4 linked regions of the Homo sapiens genome follow. The protein of the gene in region 3 purifies or fractionates together with the protein of the main gene of each other region. This does not show direct contact. Each region holds a gene or a part of one and is shown on either strand. Other genes may lie near its edges. The genes, in order: NCAPD2, DOC2A, GPR137B and NCAPG.

Region 1 (7,037 bases), on a different chromosome or scaffold from region 3:
GTAGATGTTTTCATGTAGTAATGGTCTGACCATAGGCCTAGTCCACAATTAAGCATGTGTTTCTACTTTATAAATGTTTAAAAAAACTACTGAAACAATTAAATGTTAACAGTATTATAATCAAACATGAGTCCTCCTTCAATTGAAGAAGAGCACCTATAAATAAGTTCTAGTTGTATGATCTTGAATAAGTTGCTTAACTTTCTGTGCCTCGGTTTCATTATCTATAAAATAAGAAATTGATTAGATCTTATGATCTCTAAGGACTTTCTAATTCTAAATTTCATGAACTAATAATATCAAACATGCTTAATACTACCTTAATCTTCAAACCTAGTATGAATCCTGATCTTAGAGAAAAGATTTCTCCTAGTGTTTTTGTGACTCTAGAACTTAACAACAAAAGCCCTTACAGCCGTCAACAAGTTTTTTTTTTTTTTTTTTTTTTTTTTTTTTGAGATGGAGTCTCACTCACTCTGTTGCCCAGGCTGCAGTACAGTGACACGATCTTGGCTCACTGCAACCTCTGCCTCCCAGGTTCAAGCAATTCTCGTGCCTCAGCCTCCCAAGTAGCTGGGACCACAGGCGCGCACCACCACACCGCACTAATTTTTTTATTTTTAGTAGAGACAGGGTTTCACCATATTGGCCAGGCTGGTCTTGAACTCCTGACCTCAGGTGATCCACCCATCTCAGCCTCCCAAAGTGCCATGATTACAGGCGTGAGCCACCGCACTCGGCTGCCAACAAGTATTCTTAAACCTCAGCCACAAGTTATTTGTTATTTATTTACTTCTTACCTAATTGGGCTGAATTTTTTTTTTGGAGACGGAGTCTTGCTCTGTTGCCCAGGCTGGAGTGCAGTGGTGCGATCTTGGCTCACTGCAACCTCCACCTCCTGGGTTCACGCCATTCTCCTGCCTCAGCCTCCCGAGTAGCTGGGACTACAGGCGCCCGCCACCACGCCCGGCTAATTTTTTTTTTTATATTTTTAGTAGAGACGGGGTTTCACCGTGTTAGCCAGGATGGTCTCAATCTCCTGACCTCGTGATCCGCCTGCCTCGGCCTCCCAAAGTGCTGGGATTACAGGCTTGAGCCACCGTGCCCGGCTTGGGCTGTTTTTAGAAGGCTAGAGAGTGGCTTGTTTGCCCTATGACTCCCTTATGTTACTTTAGTGTCTCTCTTTTTATTTTGCTAAAGCAAAAATAGAGACTATAGTTTTATAAGTGCATGTTCCACCAAGCATTCTAGTATTTTCTCCTGTCAATTAGAAAAGGATTGTTTGTTTTTGAGACAGAATCTCACTGTTGCCCAGGCTGGAGTACAGTAGCGCAATCACAGCTCACTGCAGCCTCTCACTGTAGCCTCAACCCTGCTGGGCTCAAGCGATCTCCCACATTAGCCTCCTGAGTAGCCTGGTTAATTTATTTATAATTTGTAGCTGGGATTACAGGTACACACCACCAGGCCTGGCCTTTGCCAGCCTGGGCAACGTGGCAAGAAGATAACATGTAGACAAGCAGTCAAACATGTATTCTTTTTTTCCCCCTTTTATATGACTGATAGAATTCTCTGCCCACTGATCTACCATCTTGTTTTTTTCACTTAACTATGTGTCTCAGTGGTTTTTAAAAATATTTATGGCTGGGTGCAATGGCTCATGCCTGTAATCCCAGCTACTTGGGAGGCTGAGGCAGGAGAATTGCTTGAACCCAGGAAGCAGAGGTTGCAGTGAGCTGAGATTGCTCCGCTACACTCTACCCTGGGTGACAGAGGAAGAGTCCATCTCAAAAAAAAAAAAAAATTTATAGATGGCCAGGTGCAGTGGCTCACACCTGTAATCCCAGCACCTTGGGAGCCCAAAGCTGGTGGATCTCTTGAGGCCAGGAGTTTGAGGCCAGCCTGGCCAACGTGGCGAAATGGCGAAACCCATCTCTGCTAAAATTACAAAAATTGGCCAGGTATGGTGGCACGTACCTGTAATCCTAGCTATTTGGGGAGCTGAGGCATGAGAATCACTCAAACCTAGGAAGCAGAGGTTATAGTGAGCCAAGATCATGCCACTACACTTCAGCCTGGGTGACAGAACAAGACTCTGTCTCTAAAAAAAAAAATATATATATATATATACACATATATATTTATACATAAATAGTTTCCCACTCTCCTCTTTTTTTGAGAGAGAGAGTGTCTCACTCTTTTGCCCATGCTGGAGTACAGTGGTATGATCACAACTCACTGCAGCTTTGATCTCCCAGGCTCAAGTGATCCTCCCACCTCAGCTCCCTCGAGTAGCTGAGACCACAGGCACACACCATTACACCCACAGGCACACACCATCACACCCACAGGCACACACCATCACACCCACAGGCATACACCATCACACCCACAGGCACACACCATCACACCCGGCTAACTTTTTTTACTTTTTGTATAGTTGGGTCTCCCTGTGTTGCCCAGACTGATCTCAAATTCCTGGGCTCACGTGTCCCCATTATTTTTTATGACTACATAGAATCTTATTGTCTGGATGTGCCTGAATTAACTAATTATTGAAAGTTTATTGTTTCTAAACTTAGGAAAGTTTTTAAACAGGTGTTTGGAGTAGGTTTATGATTTTAAAACTTTAAAAAGCCTTATTGGAGTTTTTTTGAAGACTGTAGTAATGCCTTGTAGGTTCAGAAATAGGAAAAGTGTTTGCAGATGAGCAGTCAGGGGAAAAAAATAGGCAAAGTGTTTTGAGCCCTACCCCTTAGTAGGTGCTGTAACAACTTTTTAAGCATGTTAAGTGCTCCTTTTCTCTGGGCAGTAGGTCCAGGGACTTGATAGAATCATGAGGTAAGCTCCCTTACAAACGGCTGCAGTGACATTCTTCTGGGTACTGACAGGCTGGTGTTCTTTCAGAAAGGCCATCATTCTCACTCGAGAAGCCACAGGCCACTTCCAGGAGTCCGAACCCTTCAGTCATATAGACCCAGAGGAGTCAGAGGAGACCAGGCTCTTGAATATCTTAGGACTTATCTTCAAAGGTAATCATTTTCCTTCTTCAGTCAATAAATAACACATGTCAACTGGTATTTACTGAGCATTAACTTTATGCCATCATTGGCCTGGTTAACAGAACCTGGTGCTGAAGAGCCCAGAGATGAATTGGCATTACTTTTGCTCTGGAATGGAAGCAGCCCACGGGCCTAAGATTGATAGTCACAGGGTGACTGTCCAGACCATAGCGGTCTTTAGGTATGGTTTTTGAGAAATTTAGATATTTTAGAGTAAGTTTTAATTTCATATCTTCACATTGTGAAAAGAGATATCCAGGGCCAGATGTCGTGGCTTATGCCTGTAATCCTAACACTTTGGGAGGCCAAGGCAGGAGGATTGCTTGAGCCCAGGAGTTGAAAATCAGCCTGAGCAACATGACGAAACCCCCATCTCTACAAGGGATACCAAAAAAAAATTAGCCAGGTGCGGTGGCACGCACCTGTAGTCCCAACTGCTCAGGAGCTGAAGTGAGAGAATCACCTTAGCCCGGGGAAGTTGAGGCTGCAGTGAGCGGTGATCATTGCCACTGCACAGCCTAGGCAACAGAGTGAGACCCCATCTCAAAAGAAAAGAAGAAGGAAAATAAATAAGTAAATATCCAGGAATGTTGACAGCTGTTGGATTCCCCTGTATCCCCTTGAACGAAACCATCCTGTACTTCTCTAACTCCTTAGGCCCAGCAGCTTCCACACAAGAAAAGAATCCCCGGGAGTCTACAGGAAACATGGTCACAGGACAGACTGTCTGTAAAAATAAACCCAATATGTCGGATCCTGAGGAATCCAGGGGAAATGATGAACTAGTGAAGCAGGAGATGCTGGTACAGTATCTGCAGGATGCCTACAGCTTCTCCCGGAAGATTACAGAGGCCATTGGCATCATCAGCAAGATGATGTATGAAAACACAACTACAGGTATGCCAGAGTCCCTTTCTATAAGGACAGCCTTGGGGTTCTTTTGGATTTTTTAATTTTTTAAATTTTTATTAACAATAGAGATGGGGCCTTCCTTTGTTGCTCAGGCTGGTCTCCAACTCCTGGGCTCAGGCAATTCTTCTGCGTCAGCCTCCCAAAGTGCTGGTATTACAGGTGTGAGCCACTGCACCCGGCCATGGATCTTGGAGTTCTTTTCCATATTTTATTGATATATCTATCTGCTCCTTTAAAAGGCAGGGGTTCTCGGCTGGGCGCGATGGCTCATGCCTGTAATCCCTACAAAACTGGGAGGCCAAAGCAGGAAGACAGGTTGAGGCCAGGAGTTCGAGAGCAGCCTGGGCAACATAGCAAGACCCCATCTCTACAAAGAAACAAAAACTAACTGGGCGTGATGGCACGCACCTGTAGTTCCAGCTACTCGGAAGGCTGGGCAGGAGGATTGCTTGAGCCCGGGAGTTTGAGGCTACAGTGAGCTGTGGTCATGCCACTGCACTCTAGCCGGAGCAACAGAATAAGAACCTGTGTCTTAAGAAAAGAAAAAAAAAAGGCAGGGGTTCTTTTTTTCTGTTTGCTTCCTCTAGCCACTTACAGCTTATACATTTTAATGCATATAGTATTTCATGATAAGGCATCATAGGAGGAGTCGACATTCTCAGGGAAAATGCGGAAGGCCTCCATTTGCATCTTGCTACATTCAGAAAGGTTCTGTCGTTAGGTATTGGGGGAGTTTTGTGAAGTAGATAGGTGACATTTGTACATGTTCTCTCAGTGGTGCAGGAGGTGATTGAATTCTTTGTGATGGTCTTCCAATTTGGGGTACCCCAGGCCCTGTTTGGGGTGCGCCGTATGCTGCCTCTCATCTGGTCTAAGGAGCCTGGTGTCCGGGAAGCCGTGCTTAATGCCTACCGCCAACTCTACCTCAACCCCAAAGGGGACTCTGCCAGGTATATGGGGTGCTTTTGCCTTTGCTGACTTTTCCAAGGTCAGCTTCTCACAGGACTTCCCTTGTCTCCTAAAGGAAGAGGTGCATTTCTCCAGGGGAGTTCCAGATCCATAGGCAGTCCATCATAGTGGGGCTTAGGGTGGGGCTCGGTTTCCAGGGAGAGCAGTTTTGTAGCACTGTGGTGGGATAGCCCTAATCACTGTTTGCCAAGTTCAGCTTCCCAATCTTATAGTGACCGCTGATCTCTGCTGTTCCCACAGAGCCAAGGCCCAGGCTTTGATTCAGAATCTCTCTCTGCTGCTAGTGGATGCCTCGGTTGGGACCATTCAGTGTCTTGAGGAAATTGTAAGGCTTCCTGCTTTCTCTTTCTTTATTCATTCAACAAGTATTTTGGTTGTTTTTTTTTTTTTTTTTGAGACGGAGTCATGCCCCATTGCCCAGGCTGGAGTGCAATGGCACAATCTTGGCTCACTGCAACCTCCGCCTCCCAGGTTCAAGCAATTCTCCTGCCTCAGCCTCCCGAGTAACTGGAATTACATGCATGTGCCACCATGCCCGACTAGTTTTTTGTATCTTTAGTAGAGACGGGGTTTCACCATGTTGGCCGAGCTGGTCTCGAACCCTTGACCTCGTGATCCACCCGCCTCAACCTCCCAGAGTGCTGGGATTACAGGCGTGAGCCAAAGCGCCCGGCAACAAGTATTATTGAGTTATTACTATGTATTTAGCAATTTACTTAGCTCCAGAAAGAAGTATAAGACTATTTGCTTTCATGTTCCCAACTTTAAAGGAACCAACAGTCTAGTTGGTAGTGAAAAACCACAGAACATTTTTAGAACAATGCAGCAGGTAGATAATAAAGTGCCAGAATGAGTTGTACGGGTAATGGTTGTCATAGCAATAATAACAACCTCACTTATATGGTATTGAATATATGACAGGCACTCACACGTTACTCACAGTAACTTGTTTAATCCTCACGACAGCCCTGTGAGGTAGCATTATCTGCATTTTACAATGAGAAATCTGAGGCACAGAGAAGTTACTGAACTTGGCTGGTTACAGCTAGTTAGTGGCAAAGTTTGAGATTCAAACTCAGGCAATAAGAGCTCTAGAAAACATACTCTTAACTTCTGTGTTCTACTGAGGGATACAGAGTAGGAAAGAGAGCGGTTTGGGGTAGAATGGTCAAGGAAGCTTCCTGAAGGTGGTAGGACTTAAGCTGGGTCTTGAAAGATGAGTAGGATTTAGAGAATCAGAGCAAGGAGGGAGGGCATTTCAAACAGAACCCAAGAAAGAGCACAGTTCACATTGTAGAACAAAGAAGACTGTGTTCTGGTTCAAATTATCTGGAAAAGACCAGGCGCGATGGCTCACGTCTGTAATCCCAGCACTTTGGGAGGCCAAGGCAGCAGATTACCTGAGGTCTGAGGTCAGGAGTTCGAGACCAGCCTGGTCAACATGGCGAAACCCCACCTTTACTAAAAATACAAAAAAATTAGCCAGGTGTGGTGGTGGGCACCTGTAGTCCCAGCTACTTGGGAGGCTGAGGCAGGACAGTTGCTTGAACCCAGGAGGTGGAGGTAGCAGTGAGCCGAGATTGCGCCACTGCACTCCAGCCTGGGCGACAGAGGGAGACTCTGTCTCAAAAAAAAAAAAAAAAAAAAAAATCTGGAAAAGATAATAAAGTTGTGAATGTAGGTTGGAACTAAACTGTGGAAGTCCCTGAATGACTTCAGGAGTCTAGGACTTTAACTGTGTTAGCCAGGCACCCAGCATTTTAGTGAGACATTCTGCTTTGTAGCATTTGCATTGCGGGCACAGAGAGTGGAGGTGGCGCTGGGAAGCGTGCTCCTGCCAGCCACATTTTTCTCCTCACTGGGGAAAAGAAAAGAGCCTGGTGGTGGTGATTGGCCATGATGTCATAGGTCAGTTACCGGCAAAAGCCCTACAAGAGGCAGGGGAGAGCACCTGCAAACTGGGGTGCAACAGAAGGGACGTGGGGAAGCAGAGGCTGAGGAGACCAACCCATGGGAAGGAAGGCCCGTGGAGGCTGCTGCAGTGGGCAGTAACGAGGGGCTGGACTTGAGGATTGGAGAAATCACTGCAGAATG
Region 2 (3,051 bases), on a different chromosome or scaffold from region 3:
TCACCTCTATCACCACCCCCAGGCACTTGCTGGTTTGAGGCTCTCGAGGGGCTGAGGGGGGCAGGCCCTGAGTGCAGCATGGGTTGGCCCAGCTGTGCCCAGGGCCTCTTCCCCCTCCCCAGAGCTGCCCTGGGGGGCAAAGCCTAGTCTCCTGAGGCCCCAGTGCCTCCCTGACTAGTCCCCCTGTGTTTCTTCCCCCTGCTGCAGATGGCGGTGGGACCCCCCGACTGCCCTGTGGGAGGGCCGCTGACCTTCCCTGGCCGGGGTTCTGGGGCTGGGGTCGGGACAACCCTGACCCCCCTCCCACCCCCTAAGATGCCCCCCCCCACGATCCTGAGCACGGTCCCTCGGCAGATGTTCAGCGATGCAGGTAGCGGGGACGATGCCTTGGATGGAGACGATGACCTGGTGATCGACATCCCGGAGTGACCGTGACATCACGCCATGCCCACCACGGCCCCGCCCGGCGCCCTCCCCGTGCCAGCACACACGAGTCCAGCTTCCTCGGAGGTGTTTATTGATGCCCAGCTGCCATGCTCCGGCCACTGACACAACCAGAAAAGGCGTAAACATGCACGGGTGTCCCCCAGGAGGGTGGCAGGGGCCCTGCCTTCAAACCCCGGCCCCCTCCAGGGGACAGTTATTTAAACGAGTGGCCGGGAGCATCTGCCACCTGCTGGGGAGGCAGAGACCCTGCAATGGCCACCTCTTTAAAAGGGCAGCTGTACAGGGCTAGGTTTTTTCAATGAAGTTTCTGTATTAAAGGAGTGGCTCTGGGTTTGTTTTTTGTCCTTTTTTTTTGAGACATTCTCCTCCTCTGAACCTCCCCTAATCCGACCTCCTCCCTGTTGGGGGAGAGGGACGGGGCAGCGTGGAGAGGCAGGAGTGAGGAGCGCGGGGGCCTGGGGCCGGGCTCTGAGCACTGCCCGGGTGTGCAGATGATGGGGGGTTTGCATATTTGCAGGGACTAGCGAGTCAGGCAGGAGGTTTGCATATGTGAATATAGAACTCCGCAGCCCCTCATGAGCAGACAGACCCGGGTCACGGAGACTCACAAAAATAGGTAGTGCAGGGTGGGGGCAGCCCACCCTGTGTAAACGTGCAACACACTCGTGCGAAGGTTGGGTACTGGACCCGGCTCGATGGGCCTGTGCCGGGACACTGCTGTCCACTCAGGCTGAGGACAGAGCCCCGGCCGCAGGGGGCAGCTCACTGGTCAGGGTGTGCCAGCGCTCCAGGGCTGCGTCCGGCTGCTGCAGGCAGTCACTCCAGTGCTTCCGAGCCTCGCCTCGGGCACCTGGCCCCAGGGACACGCCACCTGGGGAGCAGGTGGGCAGGGTCAGGGCCACCTCCCTGCCACTTGCCCGCCCTCAACACCCGCAGCCAGCTCCTCCCTCACCAATGAAGTCATTGGATTTGCCAATGTCATAGTCCCAGACGGTGACTTCCAGGGTCTTGGTGGCCAGAGTGGAGAGCTCTATCTCGTAGAAAAACTCCTAGGGACAAGGCCGGCCACCCGTTCGTGAGCCAGCTCCCCAGCCCCTCCCTGGCCTCCCTCCATGTCCCGTCCCCTCCTGGGTACCTCGTTAAATTCTGGGTTGAGAGTCTTCTTCTTCACACACGTCTTATGCTTGGATTTCTTGTCCACATCGGGCCTCAGGTACCTGGGGGTGGGGTGGAGGGAGACGAACTGAGGGGTGAGGGACAGGCCAGGCCCAACTCAGGCCAGGGCAGGCTCCCTGGGGAGGAGAGGGTCAGAGCAAGGGCTCACGTCTTGACGTAGGGGTCCGAGTAACCGTTGACGTCCATGGCAGCCAGATGGGCGCAGCGCAAGATGCCTACCAGCAGTCCCCGGCGCCGCGAGCTGTAGCTGAGACTCAGCAGGATGCGGCCACGCTCCTCCAGCAGCCCCTGCCCCTGCTCCGCCTGCTCCAACTGCGGGGCACAGACTCAGGGTCAGCCTGGGCCCCTGCAGCCTCCCACCCACATGCATCCCCATCCCCATGAGGTGCCTCACCTCCTTCAGATAACAGGAGATGCCCCTCAGCGCCGCTGACATGGAAGAGGGGGACGCCAGCTGAGGGGGCAAAGAGAAGGTTCTGGAAGCCTGGCCTCCCCAGGGCCCCCTCCCCTGGCGCCCCTGCAGCCCCCACACAGACCGGGACCTGGCGCTCGAGGCAGATGTTAAAATGCTTCTTCTGCGAAGGCTTGAGGCGGCGGAGGGGCACGCGGATCTCCCCAATAAACTCATTGTGACTCAGCTTGTCCTCATCACAGACGGCGATCCTGGTCGGGAACTGCAGTGTCAGGGCCCCTGGGGTACCTGAGCCCCGTTCCGGGGTGTAGGAAGGGCCTTGGACCAGCCCAGCTCTGCCCTAAACACTACGTCTCATCTGGAAGACAGGCTGGCACTTGAGAAGGACAAGCAGATTTGCCCATTCCTCTGTCCCTCCCTCTGCAGCCACCCGGCTGTCCCTGGTCCATCAGGACATGCTCAGCCATTGTGGGAAGCCCTCAGAAATCTTGGAGCACGCTGCTCACTGCCTCCATTCAGGGCCTGGGGGCAGGAGCCGAACACCACGGTGGATGTGGCCATAGACACAGGCCGTGAGAGCTAGAAGGGCCTTGGAGCCTTGGGCAGCCAGACCAGTACCCCACGCCTCCTCGGGAACCCCCGTCCTTTTCCTGCATGCAGCAGAGAGCCAGCCCCGCAGGGACTCACTAAGAAATGATTGCTTTCCAGCCACCTGTCCTCCTGCAGTCCCTGCCCTGCCTCCGCAGTGACCCACTACCAGGCTGGGCATCTGTGGCATGGAGGATGGGCAGATCCCAGCCCTGCCACTTCTGAGCCACCTGTGTGACCTTGGGCAAGTCACTTGATCACCCTATGCCTCAATTCCCATCTGTAAATGGAGATAGTCAAGGGAAAGAAAGAAATGTGAAAATGCTAAGCCTGGGCTGGGCCCTGGTGAGCGCTCATTTTTTGGTCTCATTCTGGTTTTGGCCTCTGGCCTCCCCTCCATTCCACCCGAATAGCTGAAACCAAGGTGG
Region 3 (7,037 bases):
CCCAGCTAAGTTTTGTATTTTTAGTAGAGACAGTGTTTCACCATGTTGACCAGGATGGTCTTGATCTCTTGACCTTGTGATCTGTCCACCTCGGCCTCCCAAAGTGCTGGGATTACAGGTGTGAGCCACCGCACCCGGCCAAGAAAGCACACTTCTAAGCAATTGGTTATATTTATTTTTACCAGAACTCTCTGAAGAAAGTACCGGTATTGTCCCCATTTTCCAGAGGAGGAAACTGAGGCTGAGAGGTCGTAGATGACTTGCTCAAGGTCACACTGTCAGTGCATGGTGGAGCTGGGATTCAACACACATCTGTGCTGTCTGAGTGTGAGGTTTGTCTTTTATGTACAGTATGTGAAACCTCTTTTTATTTTATTTTTTGAGATAGAGCCTTGCTTTGTGGTGATCTGGGTTCACTGCAACCTCTGCCTCCTGGATTCAAGCGATTCTCCTGCCTCAGCCTCCCGAGTATCTGGGATTACAGGCACCTGCCACTGCACCTGGCTAATTTTTGTATTTTTAGTAGAGATGGAGTTTTGCCATGTTGGCCAGGTTGGTCTCAAACTCCTGACCTCAAGTAATCTGCCCACCTCGGCCTCCCAAAGTGCCGTGATTACAGGTGTGAGCCACCGCGCCTGGCCATGAAACCTCTTAACAATGGGAAAACATACCCAACTCTAAATCTAACCTCGTGTTCTCCTGGAGCGCAAAATCAGGTTGCAGAGAATCAAAGTATACATACAGCACAGTTAAGGCACGATTTGCGGCACTGAAGGGAATGGTTATTGAAGCGTCAGGAGACTTGAATGAGACATGAGTCCTCTGAGAAGAAGCAGGTGTCTGGAGGCTGAAGCTGGGTGGGGAGGAAGAGAGGATGGTGGGAAGGAAGTCGTGGGGGCAGTTTGGGAATTGGGAATGAACTGGAAGGAGAGGTCCGAGATGGGGAGGAAGCTTTTTTCTGTTGTTGTCAGTCCTTTGTGCTTTTGCAGGGTCCCTGTACCTGGGCCTTACTCATCTCACCCTCCCTGGTGACCCAGAGGGTACTGTTACCCCCCAACTGAGGCTCGGAGGGGTGAGAACACTTGCCCACACTGCCCCGTCCGAGCCTCCGTGCAATGCACACGATGCTGCAGTACGCAGCCCCGGCTGCCCTTGGGTACACATCTGAGGGTAATGCGATCATGAGCAAGCTCAATTTGATTAACTTACCCCTAAATCACTGCTTTTAAATTCTGCCATGTTAAGTCTCTTTCCACCCCTAATGACCTCTCAGGCAGATCCTATGGCTTTCTAGTCATACTCGGTAATTATTATTATTTTGGAGTCTGGCTCTGTCACCCAGGCCGCAGTAGTGTGATCTTGGCTCACTGCAACCTCCGCCTCCCAGATTCAAGCAGTTCTCCTGCCTCGGCCTCCTTAGTAGCTGAGATTACAGGTGTGCGCCACCACGCCTGGCTAATTTCTGTATTTTCAGTAGAGACAGGGTTTCACCATCTTGGCCAGGCTGGTTTTGAACTCCTGACCTCAGGTGATCTGCCTACCTCGGCTTCCCAAAGTGCTGGGATTGCAGGCGTGAGCCACTGTGCCTGGCCCATACTCCTTTATTAAATCTTTACGTCTGATTTAAAGCTTCTCCCACACTGTCCAAGGCCAGCCAGGCTTCGAGCTGCAGGGCTTGGTGCAGAGGGTGTGCCCATGCTCTCAGCCTCTCCCCTTCCATCTTCCCAGGCAGCCCAGGGGAGGGGCACACTCTCTCGTGACTGCCAGCGTGTCGGCCTCTGGTCTTGCTCTGGCGCCGCCTCTGTGGGTAACTGCCACGTGGCCATGTTGACATGATGGACTTCAGCTTCTTCCTAGCCCCATCTTTGGTCTCCCTTCCATCCCAATTCCTTCTTCAGGGGGCAGCCACATGGCTTTAGGCCCCTTTTCGAAAAGCCCTTTTAGGGCTTTTTCTTAGAAAGCCATGGGATCACTGAGGCCCCTCCACTCCCACTTGGCCACATGGGTGACAGGCTGGATGCCTAACTAGCGTCTTCAGGACCCTGCACCTGGCTGCTTTTCACTCCTTGCGTGCCTAGGGGCCCTCCCACCTGTAAAAATCCCAGGTGGAAGCAAGCATCACCCTCCAAGTGCCTGGTGCCTCCAGATCACCAGGGCACAGGTCAGGCTCCACCGGGACTCCACCTGCAAACAGTCCCAGCTCAGCAAGCATCTGCCCGGGCCCCCTTCCTGCCCAATCCCTGTGAGCAGTGTCCATGTGTCTTTCTCCTTTCTGACCTGGGGTGAGGTGCCCTGCTGGTAGCAGGCTGTTAACTCTTTTTCTCCATCTCCACTCTCCACCTTCCAGTTCAGCCTGGGAACATGGGGAGGCGGCTGTGGTAGGACTGGTTCTGCTAACTCTCTCCGGGCCGTCTGTATGCAGTGTCTGTCTGGCCCCAAATGTTTGGAACATGGAGTGCTGACTACCTGTTGTTTCCAGCTGTGGCTCCTTGTGCCAGCTTTGGGGAACAGCTGAGCTTCTGCTCCCGGCTGCATGAGGAAGTGGCGGGACCAAGGCTTTGCACCAAGGCCTTTGACTCAGAGCCTGTTCTAAGCGCTGTGTCAAATCACCATTTTAGTGGGGACTTAGGAGAGGGGCAGGACTCTGAAACCTAAGGCAGGCAGGGGTCTCTGCTCATGAGGAATTATGGTGCCTTCTACCTCCAGGTTTCAGGATAGAGGCTCAGAAGCAAAGGCGGTAGCTTCTGTGCCCAGGCAGCTCCTGGGCAGACAGGTCTGTGCCCTGCAGGGGCAGAAGTTGATGTGGCGGTGGGCTCGGTGACACCTCGGCAGCCACGTATCCCAGCCCTTCTTCCTCGGAATTCCCAGCCTGGAACTCAGACTCTCCAGATTCCCGAGTTTGGCAGGATGGAACAGGCTGGTTCAGCTTTGTCTTGGGCCCTATGACAAACTCCTGCCATTGCAGTCACATGGTTTGCGGAAGGAAATGGAGAAGCGAGTTCTCTCCATGGGGAGAGGTGCTGTGATGAATGGACACTGATGTGGGAACTGAGACCTGAGACGTCACCATGCCTTGGAGGGCAGATGGGAAGCTGACATTTATCGGGGTCTGGTCTGTTCTGTTCTGAAACTCAGCTAGGGACTTCCACACCCTCCACTCAGCTGCAGCAGGGATGGTTCGTGAGTCATGTGGTCCTGTGGGATGGTGCCAGGGGCTCGTGGTGAGGGCCTGCGGCTCATGGTAGGGGCTCATAGTCGGTGTTGGGAGCTCATCATGGGCACTAGGCCAGCAAAGCCTTATGAATGAGGAGGCAGCCCTGGGAGTGAAGGAGCAGGGTCCCTGGGTGCAGATCTGGGTTCCAATCCGGGCTTTGCCTCCAGTGTGGGTCCCATGGCTGGTTACCACCTCTCTAAGGCTGCTGCTTCACCAGGGAGACAGAAACTGTAATACTCATCCCATGGGTCGGAGTGGGTTAAAGGAGATGCCGTGTGTCCTGAATCCCTTTGCTCCTCTCCTCCCTTAGTTGAGATTCTCACTGTGTGTTGCCTACAGCTCTGAACCTAGGCTCTTGCTTCGACACCCAGCCACTGTCCTGAAGGTCAGGTCCCCGGGCTGACCCTGCCCTTTTCCAGCCTACTGTGCCATCAAAATTACTTTTCCACCAAACAGCAGCTTTTCTGTTTGTAAAACGGTGGTGACTCTTGGCGCACCCGTAGGGAGCATGTGGCAAGCCTAATCGCAGTGCCTGACATGAGAGCAGAAGGCACTGGGGGTCCAGCAGCCCAGCCCCTCCTTTGCAGATGAGCCGACCAGAGGAGGAAATTCTCCCAGGCAGCCCAGCCAGGCGTGCAGAGGCAGGACAAGTCCCGTGTTTCAGGCTGACCGATCCGTGCTTGCTACAGACGCCACACTCTGACTTGAAGTGGGTCATAGTCCTCATTCTTGCTGGTAGGGAACTAAGAGGCCCCTAAAAGTCGAATCCAGGAACTAGTCCTCCGTGCTCACCAGGAAAGGGACGTGGGTGATTGTAGGAGTAAGGGGCTTCGGCTGTGGCTCTTGGCGGTCAGTTTAGTCAAGACGTGTTTATCAAATACCTGTCGTGTGGCAGGCCCTAGTCTAGGAGTTGTGAAGAGGGAAGCTTCTAGGCCTTTTGGTGATTGTAAAGAAGTAAGAGGCTTAGGAAACAGACAAGGCGGGCCAAGGGCAAGGACTGTGCTCAGCCTGGCCTCTGGGCCCTGCGCCCATGGCCTCAGCCCCTGGCACCGGCTCCCTGCGGAGCTAGCTCAGTGGGCTCATGGCCAGCCAGAGTTGTGTGTGCACCTAGGTGTGCGCCTTTGTATGTGTATGTGCATGTGTGCCTGTGTGCACCTGTGTGTATGTACATGTGTGCCTGTGCACGTGTGGCTGCGTGCACCTGTGTGTGTATGTGCATATGCGTGTGTGCCTGTGTGCACCTGTGTGTGTGTGGGGTTTGTGTATGTGTGCCTGTGTGTGTGCCTGTGTGTGTACCTGTGTGTGTGTGTGCCTGCCTCTGTGTGCCTGTGTCTGTGTGGGTCTCTGAGTGTCTGTGCATGTGTGTGTCTGTGCCTGTGTATGTCTGTGCCTGCGTGTGCCTGTGTGTGTGCCTCTGTTTGTGTCTGTGCATGTGTGTGCCCGTTTGTGTTTGTGTGTGTCTGTGTGCCTGTGTGTGTGTCTGTGCCTGTGTGTGCCTGTGTATGTCTGTGCCCGTGTGTGTGCCTGTGTTTGTGTGTGTCTGTGCCTGTGTGTGTCTTTGCCTGTGTTTGTGTGTATGTGCCTGTGTGTGTGTCTGTGCATGTGTGTGCCTGTGTGTGTGGAAAGGTTTCCTTATTTTCTTGGTCTGCCGTTCACCCCCAGCACCTCCCGCAGGCCACTTTCTAAACATACAGCCCAGTTTCCCGAGCCCTCTCCTCGAGCCATGGCAGCGTGCTCTTCTCTCTGCAGCTGAGGCTGTGACCGCATCAGTGCCTCGGTGATGCCCTGCCAACCGAGGGGGAACTAAATCCTGTTAATGCCCTCAGCACTCGGGGAACAATTAGGCCCCTCACAGCACATTCAGCATCCAACCCCAGTGACCATGCAGGAAGCCTGGACTTCCCCACAGCAGAGGCTGGGCTGAGGCTGCTGCCGGGTCACCATCAGGAGCGCCCTACTGTCGGCTCCGAACACTGTGGCACCTGCAGGCTTTGCTACGGCTTCTTGCTCACCTGCCTTTCCGTAGTCAGACAGGCAGAACTGGTAGTGACCAGCAGGGAGGCAGGGCCGGAGCACTGTCCTGAGGCTAGTGCAGGTTCTCAGTGGAGTTCCAGGGCCCAGCCATGGCTGTCCCGCTGCTGCTGTGCCCACCCTCTGAGCCCCAGGCTAGCTGCTCAGCGTTGAGTGGCGGGGAGTGGAGGGCAGGGGTCATGACAGTGAGGGGTGGGCTGCCCAGAGAGGAACATTTGCAAGATCCAAGACCCTCTACAAAATCTCACTGCAAGCGTCTTAGGGTTTTGCAAACAACAAAGTCATGTGATCCCAAGAGCCGCTTTTGTCAGGCTGTTCCTGTTGGCCTTGCGTTTCCAGTGAGAAGAAGAAAGCTGGTTCCTGGTTGGAAGGTCTGTCTGGGTCCTGACATTTTGGCCGGCCAGTTCTCTCAGTACAGAAATAGCCCCAGCAGACTGTTTAGACAGTACCTGGGACAACAGGCATTCCCCGAGGGCTGCAGAGGCTCATAAATATTTCACTTTTTATGTTTCCTGCAGCTGAAGCTTAGAGTCCATTAACCTATAAGGACAGATGAAGCCCAAATGGTTTTACTCTGCAAGTGGGTTGATTACCTCAAGCTTATGTGGGTCAGGATTTTAGGCCTGTGAGCCACATATGGTCTCTGTTGCATATTCATTTTTTTTTTTTTTTTTTTTTTTTGAGACAGAGTCTTGCTCTGTCGCCAAGCTGGAGTGCAGTGGCGCAATCTCGGCTCACTGCAACATCTGCCTCCCAGGTTCAAGTGATTCTCCTGCCACAGCCTCCCGAGTAGCTGGGACTACAGGTGCCCGCCACCATGCCCAGCTAATTTTTGTATTTTTAGTAGAGACGGGGTTTCACAATGTTGGCCAGGATGATCTCGATCTCTTGACCTCATGATCCGCCTGCCTCGGCCTTCCAAAGTGCTGGGATTACAGGCGTGAGCCACTGCGCCCGGCCTCCCTCCTCGATTTTTAAATGGCATACACACTTGCGAGGCTGAGCTACGCAGTCTGCAAAACACAGGGTGAAAAAACCCCCATACACGGTGGGGTTGGCTCTGTGGGCTGCTCCCACCCCATAGGCTACTCTCCCTGTCACCTTGGACTCTGCTGCCACAGCTTCTTTGTAGCTGTCAGAGGTCATGTTGTCCCATCAGGCTGTGTGACGGTCCATTTTTAGTGCATGAGTGGTGGCAGATAAGGAGGGAAGTGGGCAGGGTGTGAGCAACCTTGGCGTGCCGTGAGCCTGGCCCCATCAGGCCCACACTCATTTTCTGGGAAGACAGCACACATCTATCCATGCGAGAGGGCCTCGTCCTCCCAGCTTTCACAAAGCAACATAAAGTTCAACTGGAACATGGCGATTCATTTCATTTATTCAACAGGTGTTTTTTTTTAAATTAAAAAAATTGTATTGTCTGGGTGTGGTGAATTACACCTGTAATCCCAACACTTTGGGAGGACGAGGCAGGAGGTTCGCTTGAGCCCAGGAGTTCAAGACTATCCTGGGCAATATAGTGAGATCTCATCTGTACAAAAAATTAAAAAATTAGCCAAGCATAGTGGCATGCACCTGTAATCCCAGCTACTCAAGAGGCTGAGGTGGGAGGATTGCTTGAACTTGGGAGGTCAAGGCTGCAGTGAGCTGAGATCGCACCACTGCATTCTAGCCTGGGTGATAGAGCGAGACCTGTCTCAAAAAAATGTATTGGGGCTGGACACAGTGGCTTATGCCTGTAATCCCAGCACTTTGGGAGGCCGAGGCGGGTGGATCATCTGAGGTCAGTAGT
Region 4 (7,037 bases), on a different chromosome or scaffold from region 3:
GGTATTTGATAGTCAACCTGTACTTAATAATTGAGGTAGGAAAGATGTGAGAAGTACAGATAAATATATTTAAATATAAGAAATGGGTTTGTTTCAATGAATAAAACCAAAAAATATTTCCTTTTAGGTCTCATTAAAAACCAAAATAATGGGCCCTTATAAAGCCATATCAGTTTAAAATAAACTGTCTGCTATAGTAAGCTTTCTCTTAAATATTGAGGAGTAGCACAGACATAATCTTAATGATGAATTTTCTGTGACTTTTAGGGCTATTTGTTTTCACTTTTGGCCTAAGAGCCAGTCCGTTGACTAATTCCCCCTTGTGTCTTTAGAAGGGAAGTTGGTGGCCTGCGCAGCAGTGACTCAGGCCTGTAATCTCAGCACTTTGGCTCCAACCTGGGCAACATAGTGAGACCTTGTCTCCAAAAAAAAGAAAAAGAAGGAAGTTGGTGGGAAAAAAACTTCAACTAAAATATGTGAGACTAAAAAAATGACATTACTTTCTATTACAGATGGGTTCTCACTCGGGCTGGATTGCAGAGGTGTGGCCTCAAACTCCTGGGCTTAAGTGATCCTTCCACCTCAGCCTCCTAAGTAACTGGAAGCGCCACTACCATGCCTAGCTAATTTTTTATTTTAAAATTATTTTGTAGAGACAGGGGTCTTTCTATATTGCTCAGGCTGGTCTTGAACTCTTGGCTTCAAGCTCTCCACCTACCTTGGCCTCCCAAAGTGCTGGTTATAGGCAGTAGCCATCATGCCCAGCCTATCTTTATCACATTAAAGGCATTTTAAAATATCAAAATGTGTGTTATTTTATGACTGTAGTTAAATAAATAATTTCATCAGTACTAAAATGTATTGCTTTATTTTTAGCATATGCTACTTTGATTGAAAATGATTCAAATCCAGAAGTTAGACGGGCAGTGTTATCATGTATTGCACCATCAGCAAAGACTTTGCCAAAAATTGTAGGGCGCACCAAGGATGTGAAAGAGGCTGTCAGAAAGCTGGCTTATCAGGTAAATAAGTTCAATGTCTTGTGTTGGCATATTCTTAAAGGACAAGGAGCCATTTTCTTAAAGTGCCTTTGAAAAATACTTGGCATGTAATAATTTCTTCAGTTGAGGTTTTATGGAGAACACAGGTAATTTAGGTAGAATCTTACTGTATTAAGTATGTTACCAGGTATTAATTTCTTTTGGAGATTCTGGGTAATTTTCTAAGATGGTGATATTCTTATGAAATCTATAAATTGTGTTGAGGTTAATGACCATCTTTATAAATTATTTTTAAGGTTTTAGCTGAAAAGGTTCATATGAGAGCTATGTCCATTGCTCAGAGAGTAATGCTCCTTCAACAAGGTCTTAATGACAGATCAGGTAAGATAAACAACTTTATATATACAAAACTTTAGTAGATTTTGAGGTCAGACTTAACAAGGTTTAAGAAACGAGTGTCAAATCAGGTCAAGTAAGCCTGCCAGTCCCATGAACCTGGTGAAATTTATCTTGATGTATTATATAGAAAACACAGGGCTAAAGATTTTGATATATATATATTTTTGAGACAGAGTCTCACTCTATCACCCAGACTGGAGTGCTGTGGTGCAATCTTGGCTCACTGCAACCTCTGCCTTCTAGTTTCAAGCGATTCTCCTGCCTCAGCCTCCTGAGCAGCTGGGATTACAGGTGAACATCACCATGTCTGGTTAATTTTTATATTTTTATAGAGACGGGGTTTCACCATGTTGGCCAGACTGGTCTCGAACTCCTGACCTCAAGTGATGCACCTACTTCAGCCTCCCAAAGTGTTGGGATTACAGGTGTGAGCCACCGCGTCTGGCCAAGATCTTGGTATTTTGAAGGAGCAGAGCTTATTTCTTTCACCCTTTCTGTATTTTACAGATGGAGAAACAATACTTAAGTCTGTAGAGCTAATTCATGTCAGAAGTAGGAAAAGATCTATTTGCCCTCTCTCTCTGACTTAAAAAAAAAATGCTGTTCCTTATGTGTATACTTTGGTATGAATGTGTTCTGTGTATCAGAAACAACAAATAGGAATGGTCAGACCAGTATAATTTTCTTATTTTTTTTTTTTTCTGTTAGAGTAGAGTTCCCCAACATTTTTGACACCAAGGATCGATTTCATGGAAGACAGTTTTTCCACAGAGGGCGGGCTGGATGGTTTCCAGATGAAACTGTTCCACCTCAGATCATCAGGCATTACTTAGATTCTCATAAGGAGCGTGCAACCTGGATACCTCATGTGCGCAGTTCACAATAGAGTTCCTGCGCCTGAGAGAATCTAATGCATCTGCTGATCTGACAGTAGGAAGAGCTCAGGTGGTAATGCTCGTTAGACCACGGCTTACCTCCTCCTGTGCGGCCCGGTTCCTAACAGGCCACAGACTGGTACTAGTCCGTGGCCCAGGGGTTGGGGAGCCTGAGAGAATCTGCTTATAGGAATGATATTTTTTGAAGTTTTTAACTCTCATGAGAAGGCCAAGATGGCTCTATTGCGCTGTAGTGAGAAAACCGACTTGCGTTTGAAAACATTGTCAGAGGACTAATTAGTAGGATGACCTTAAAAGCTAAGACTAAGGTTTGTTCAGTGACGTGTGCTTGTATAGTTCACTACTGCAAATAGCAATCGTGTAATAGATAAAATCAGATAACAAGTGAGATAATAGCTATTACATATTCTGGGCTAACACCTGAAGCCCATTGAACCCAGGGGAGAAGGAATGTAAAGATATTTTTGTAGGCTGTGGTATTTGGTGCTGAACCTTTTCCATTTTTATTTGTAAGTGACCATTACAGTGACTTTTGCAGTATCATGGTACTTCTTTTTTTTTACCTTTAATATGCTTAGTTGGCTGGGCGCTATGGCTCACACCTGTAATCTCAGCACTTTTGGAGGCCGAGGCAGGCGGATCACGAGGTCAAGAGATTGAGACCATCCTGGCCAACATGGTGAAACAAAAATTAGCTGGGCGTGGTGGCGCATGCCTGTAGTCCCAGCTACTCGGGAGGCTGAGGCAGGAGAATCGCTTGAATCTGGTAGGTGGAGGTTGCAGTGAACCAAGATCGTGCCACTGCACTCCAGCCTGGTGACAGAGCGAGACTCTGTCTCAAAAAATATATATATACATGCTTAGTTGTGCCTCTTAACCTCTACTATTTCTATTGTAAATACTGACTTTGTTAATTAAAACAGACAAAATACAAGAGATGGAAGCTAGAGGGAGCCTTTGTTCACCTATGTTTCAAATGACTCAATAGATGCTGTGAAACAAGCTATGCAGAAGCATCTTCTTCAAGGCTGGTTACGGTTCTCTGAAGGAAATATCTTAGAGTTGCTCCATCGGTTGGATGTAGAAAATTCTTCTGAAGTGGCAGTCTCTGTTCTCAATGCCTTGTTTTCAATAACTCCTCTCAGTGAACTGGTGGGACTCTGTAAAAACAATGATGGCAGGTACATAAAGGATTCATTCTTTGAAATGTAGTACTGATTAACTTGTGCAATTAATTTGTTTTTTTTCCTCCCCATAGCTTAAGATTATATTAATACCTTTAATCTTAACTCTCTTTTGTTTTCTTTTAGTCTGATGAATATCCTTTTATCCTTCCTTTTTCCCCTCCTGGTGTAAGAACTCATAACTTTATCATAGACTATCTACTTTAGCTATGCTTTTCCCCCCTTCAGTTTCTTACTTTGATTTTTGAATTAGCCTACCATGAGAAAATCCAGCAACATGCACCCCTAGTATATGTTTGCTTATTTGGTTCTTTTTTGTTCTAAGTTTCTTCATTCCTTTTTGTGTGGATACATTAATGACTCTAATTAAAAGGATAGTGTAGTGGTTTTAAAGCAAATCTTATTATTCTCATTTTTGTACTCTTCAATTCTTAATGATAAAAAGATCATGCTTTCTCTCACACTCTTTCTTTTAAATGAAGGAAATTGATTCCAGTGGAAACATTAACTCCTGAAATTGCTTTGTATTGGTGTGCCCTTTGTGAATATTTGAAATCAAAAGGAGATGAAGGTGAAGAATTTTTAGAGCAGATTTTGCCAGAGCCTGTAGTATATGCAGACTATTTATTGAGGTAAATTTTTTTTCTTTTAGTTTGGAGAGTGATTGTGTTGCTGCATGTGTCAATCTCCCAGTCCCCTTCCTCAAAGTCATGTTTGATTGTGAATATGTTAAAAATCCTTTTTTTGTACATGTAGGGATAGTTATATACATCGAGTCTTTTTGAATATCTTGTGCTGGTCTGTATACTGAAAGAGCAAGTCACTATGTTTAGGATCATTTCTTCAAAACTGTTAAGATATGATTATGACCATTTCTGCATAAAGTTGATGATGATGATATATTATTTCTGAAATTGGTTGGCACATTTTCTGTTAAGTGTCAGATAATAAATATCTTAGGGTCCTGTGGGCCATACCGTCTGTCACAATGACTCAACTCTGCCATGGTATTGTAAAAGCAGCCAAAGACAATGTAAGTAACTGTTTTTCAATAAAACTTTTATTGACTTTTATGGCCACTAAATAGTTGAACTTTAATATTCATGTGTTAACAAAATAAGAAATTTTAAAAAATGATCAGTTAAAAATTTAAAATAGTCTTAGCTTGCAAGCTATATAACAGGTAATAGGCTGGATTTGATGCACGGAACATTGTTTTCCAATTCACAGCGTGGATCTTTGTGGCCAGTTTTATTTATTAAAAACTTACTATCTAGCTTCATGTTTTAAAGTTTTTTCAAAATATGCCTTTTTAAAAAACAATTTGGATTACCATAATTATACCTCTTAAGAAATTATTTGGATTACTTTATTTCACTTTAAAATTATACAAGAAAAACATGAATGCATTCTTGTCAAAATTCAAATACAGAGGTATAAGGAATAAAAATGTGGAATTCCCTCTTTTATTTCCTACTTCCTCAATCCCATTGATTAGCAACTAAGTGTATATTCTAGCAACCCTTAGAATTAGCAACTAAACAATATAGGGTGTATATTCAAACCTCTTTCTCTGCATTTATATACATTTTTTGAGTACAGGTTTCTTTAAAAATATAACACTGTGTATATACTTTTTTTTTCAACTGATAACTGAGATCATTATATATTGGTGCATATATAATGTAATAGATACTGTTACAGTCTTAACAGCATATCATTCCGTAGTATGGTGGTAACATTTAATTTATTCCTCTGTTGATGGACATTTAGGATGTTTCCATTTTTCACTGATAAAAGCAAAAGTATGTTAAATTTCCTTTACATTTTTGGGTACCTTTGGGATTTTTGGGGGTTAATTCCAAGAAATAAGTTGCTACACCAAAGGATAATATATGTATATTTTGATAGATATTGGTATGTAGGTTTTTAACTTCAACTTTATGGTTTATTTTTTTTTTTTTGAGACGGAGTCTTGCTCTGTCGCCAGGCTGGAGTGCAATAGTGCAATCTCGGCTCACTGCATCCTCCGCCTCCCGGGTTCAAGCGATTCTCTTGCCTCAGCCTCCTGAGTAGCTGGGACTACAGGCACGCGCCTCCATGCCCAGCTAATTTTTGTATTTTTAGTAGAGATGGGGTTTCACCATGTTGGCCAGGATGGTCTCAATCTCTTGACCTCGTGATCTGCCTGCCTTGGCCTCCCAAAGTGCTGGGATTACAGGCGTGAGCCACAGCGCCCAGCCTGATGTATTTTTTTAAAAAAGCTTCCATATAATATGAATTATGGACCTGAATTATCTGTATGAAGTACAGTTCTCTGCTTTTGTTTAAAATGATCTCACATAAAAGTTAGGCAGCAAAGCTGTGCATGCCTCTAAATTTCCCCTCAAAAATCCTAAATCTAGGATAAGTATCTCAAATGTGAGCCAGTAGGGAAACTATAGCTCAAGCCCATGTTAACATCATGAAGAACCTGTGTGAATCTAATGAGCATTTTAATGTTAATTATTTCAGACTTTGACATTTAAGTAGGGAATTCATTATAATGCTGTTTGGGCCATGTTGAAATGTTTCCAAAAGGAATGAGTTTGTGGCAAAGTTTAATAATATATATAAATATAAAAGATGTTTATAGAAGGTAGTGAAAATATAAGAAAATATGAGGAAATGTTAAATATTTAAATGGCATAAAGGGGGAGGAGTTTTCCTCAAGGACAGCATCAGAAGGTGACTTGTAAAAAGCTTGATTCCTCCCTTCTGAAAGGTCAGGGATTAACATTTCCTTTGTCACTCTCTTAGTTTTGAAATAAGTAACTTTAACCTCTTCGACTTATTTTCTTCACCTTTAAAGAGGAAAATTTTCGGCTGGGTGCGGTGGCTCATGCCTGTAATCCCAGCACTTTAGGAGGCTGAGGCCGGTGGATCACGAGGTCAGGAGATCGAGACCATCCTAGCCAACATAGTGAAACCCCGTCTCTACTAAAAATACAAAAAAATTAGCTGGGCGTGGTGGCAGGCGCCTGTAGTCCTAGCTACTCGGGAGGCTGAGGTAGGAGAATAGCGTGAACCTGGGAGGTGGAGCTTGCAATGAGCCGAGATCGCGCCACTGCACTCCAGCCTGGGCAACAGAGCAAGACTCCGTCTCAAAAAAAACAAAAAAAAGAAAACTTTCAGAAATTTATTTTAGTGATTGTTGAAAGAATACCTAAAAAATAGAATGAGTGTCTTTTTGGAGGAACATGACTAGATGGGATTAGTATACTTGAGTACAGAAACAAAATTAAATTGAAAAATTGTTTCCTGATAATCTCAGGAATATGTTTTCAGGCATACTGTATATTTTAGGCAGTAGATTCAATGACTAAGAACTCTGATGTGAAACAATTTTGGTTAACCAAGGTGCTCACTTAAAGAGCAAACGAGGAAATGAGGATTATCAAATTAGAGTAAGTAAAAGGGACAACAATAAAATTTGTTGAAAGCCATCTTAAATATAAATTCTTAGACTTTAAAATACTTTCTTGAGTGGTCTCTTCATTATAATAAATGTCTTTATA

What was found.
Region 1: the proteins of GPR137B (region 3) and NCAPD2 purify together in Homo sapiens (affinity purification with mass spectrometry; 3 studies listed by BioGRID and IntAct, with this or other methods). This does not show direct contact.
Region 2: the proteins of GPR137B (region 3) and DOC2A purify together in Homo sapiens (affinity purification with mass spectrometry; 3 studies listed by BioGRID and IntAct, with this or other methods). This does not show direct contact.
Region 4: the proteins of GPR137B (region 3) and NCAPG purify together in Homo sapiens (affinity purification with mass spectrometry; 3 studies listed by BioGRID and IntAct, with this or other methods). This does not show direct contact.

What each region holds. Positions count from the first base shown.
Region 1 is NC_000012.12:6,518,079-6,525,115, forward strand, and holds part of NCAPD2 (condensin complex subunit 1), read left to right. Parts: intron 1-2,907; coding exon 2,908-3,032; intron 3,033-3,719; coding exon 3,720-3,959; intron 3,960-4,749; coding exon 4,750-4,924; intron 4,925-5,183; coding exon 5,184-5,268; intron 5,269-7,037. UniProt on the Homo sapiens protein: Regulatory subunit of the condensin complex, a complex required for conversion of interphase chromatin into mitotic-like condense chromosomes.
Region 2 is NC_000016.10:30,005,014-30,008,064, forward strand, and holds the end of DOC2A (double C2-like domain-containing protein alpha), read right to left. Parts: intron 2,287-3,051; coding exon 2,160-2,286; intron 2,078-2,159; coding exon 2,018-2,077; intron 1,936-2,017; coding exon 1,772-1,935; intron 1,665-1,771; coding exon 1,583-1,664; intron 1,497-1,582; coding exon 1,400-1,496; intron 1,319-1,399; coding exon 1,173-1,318; 3' UTR 501-1,172; downstream 1-500. Other genes in the region: INO80E (INO80 complex subunit E), read left to right, coding at 1-38. UniProt on the Homo sapiens protein: Calcium sensor which most probably regulates fusion of vesicles with membranes. Binds calcium and phospholipids. May be involved in calcium dependent neurotransmitter release through the interaction with UNC13A.
Region 3 is NC_000001.11:236,145,517-236,152,553, forward strand, and holds part of GPR137B (integral membrane protein GPR137B), read left to right. Parts: intron 1-7,037. UniProt on the Homo sapiens protein: Lysosomal integral membrane protein that regulates the localization and activity of mTORC1, a signaling complex promoting cell growth in response to growth factors, energy levels, and amino acids.
Region 4 is NC_000004.12:17,813,977-17,821,013, forward strand, and holds part of NCAPG (condensin complex subunit 3), read left to right. Parts: intron 1-876; coding exon 877-1,022; intron 1,023-1,297; coding exon 1,298-1,382; intron 1,383-3,284; coding exon 3,285-3,477; intron 3,478-3,962; coding exon 3,963-4,112; intron 4,113-7,037. UniProt on the Homo sapiens protein: Regulatory subunit of the condensin complex, a complex required for conversion of interphase chromatin into mitotic-like condense chromosomes.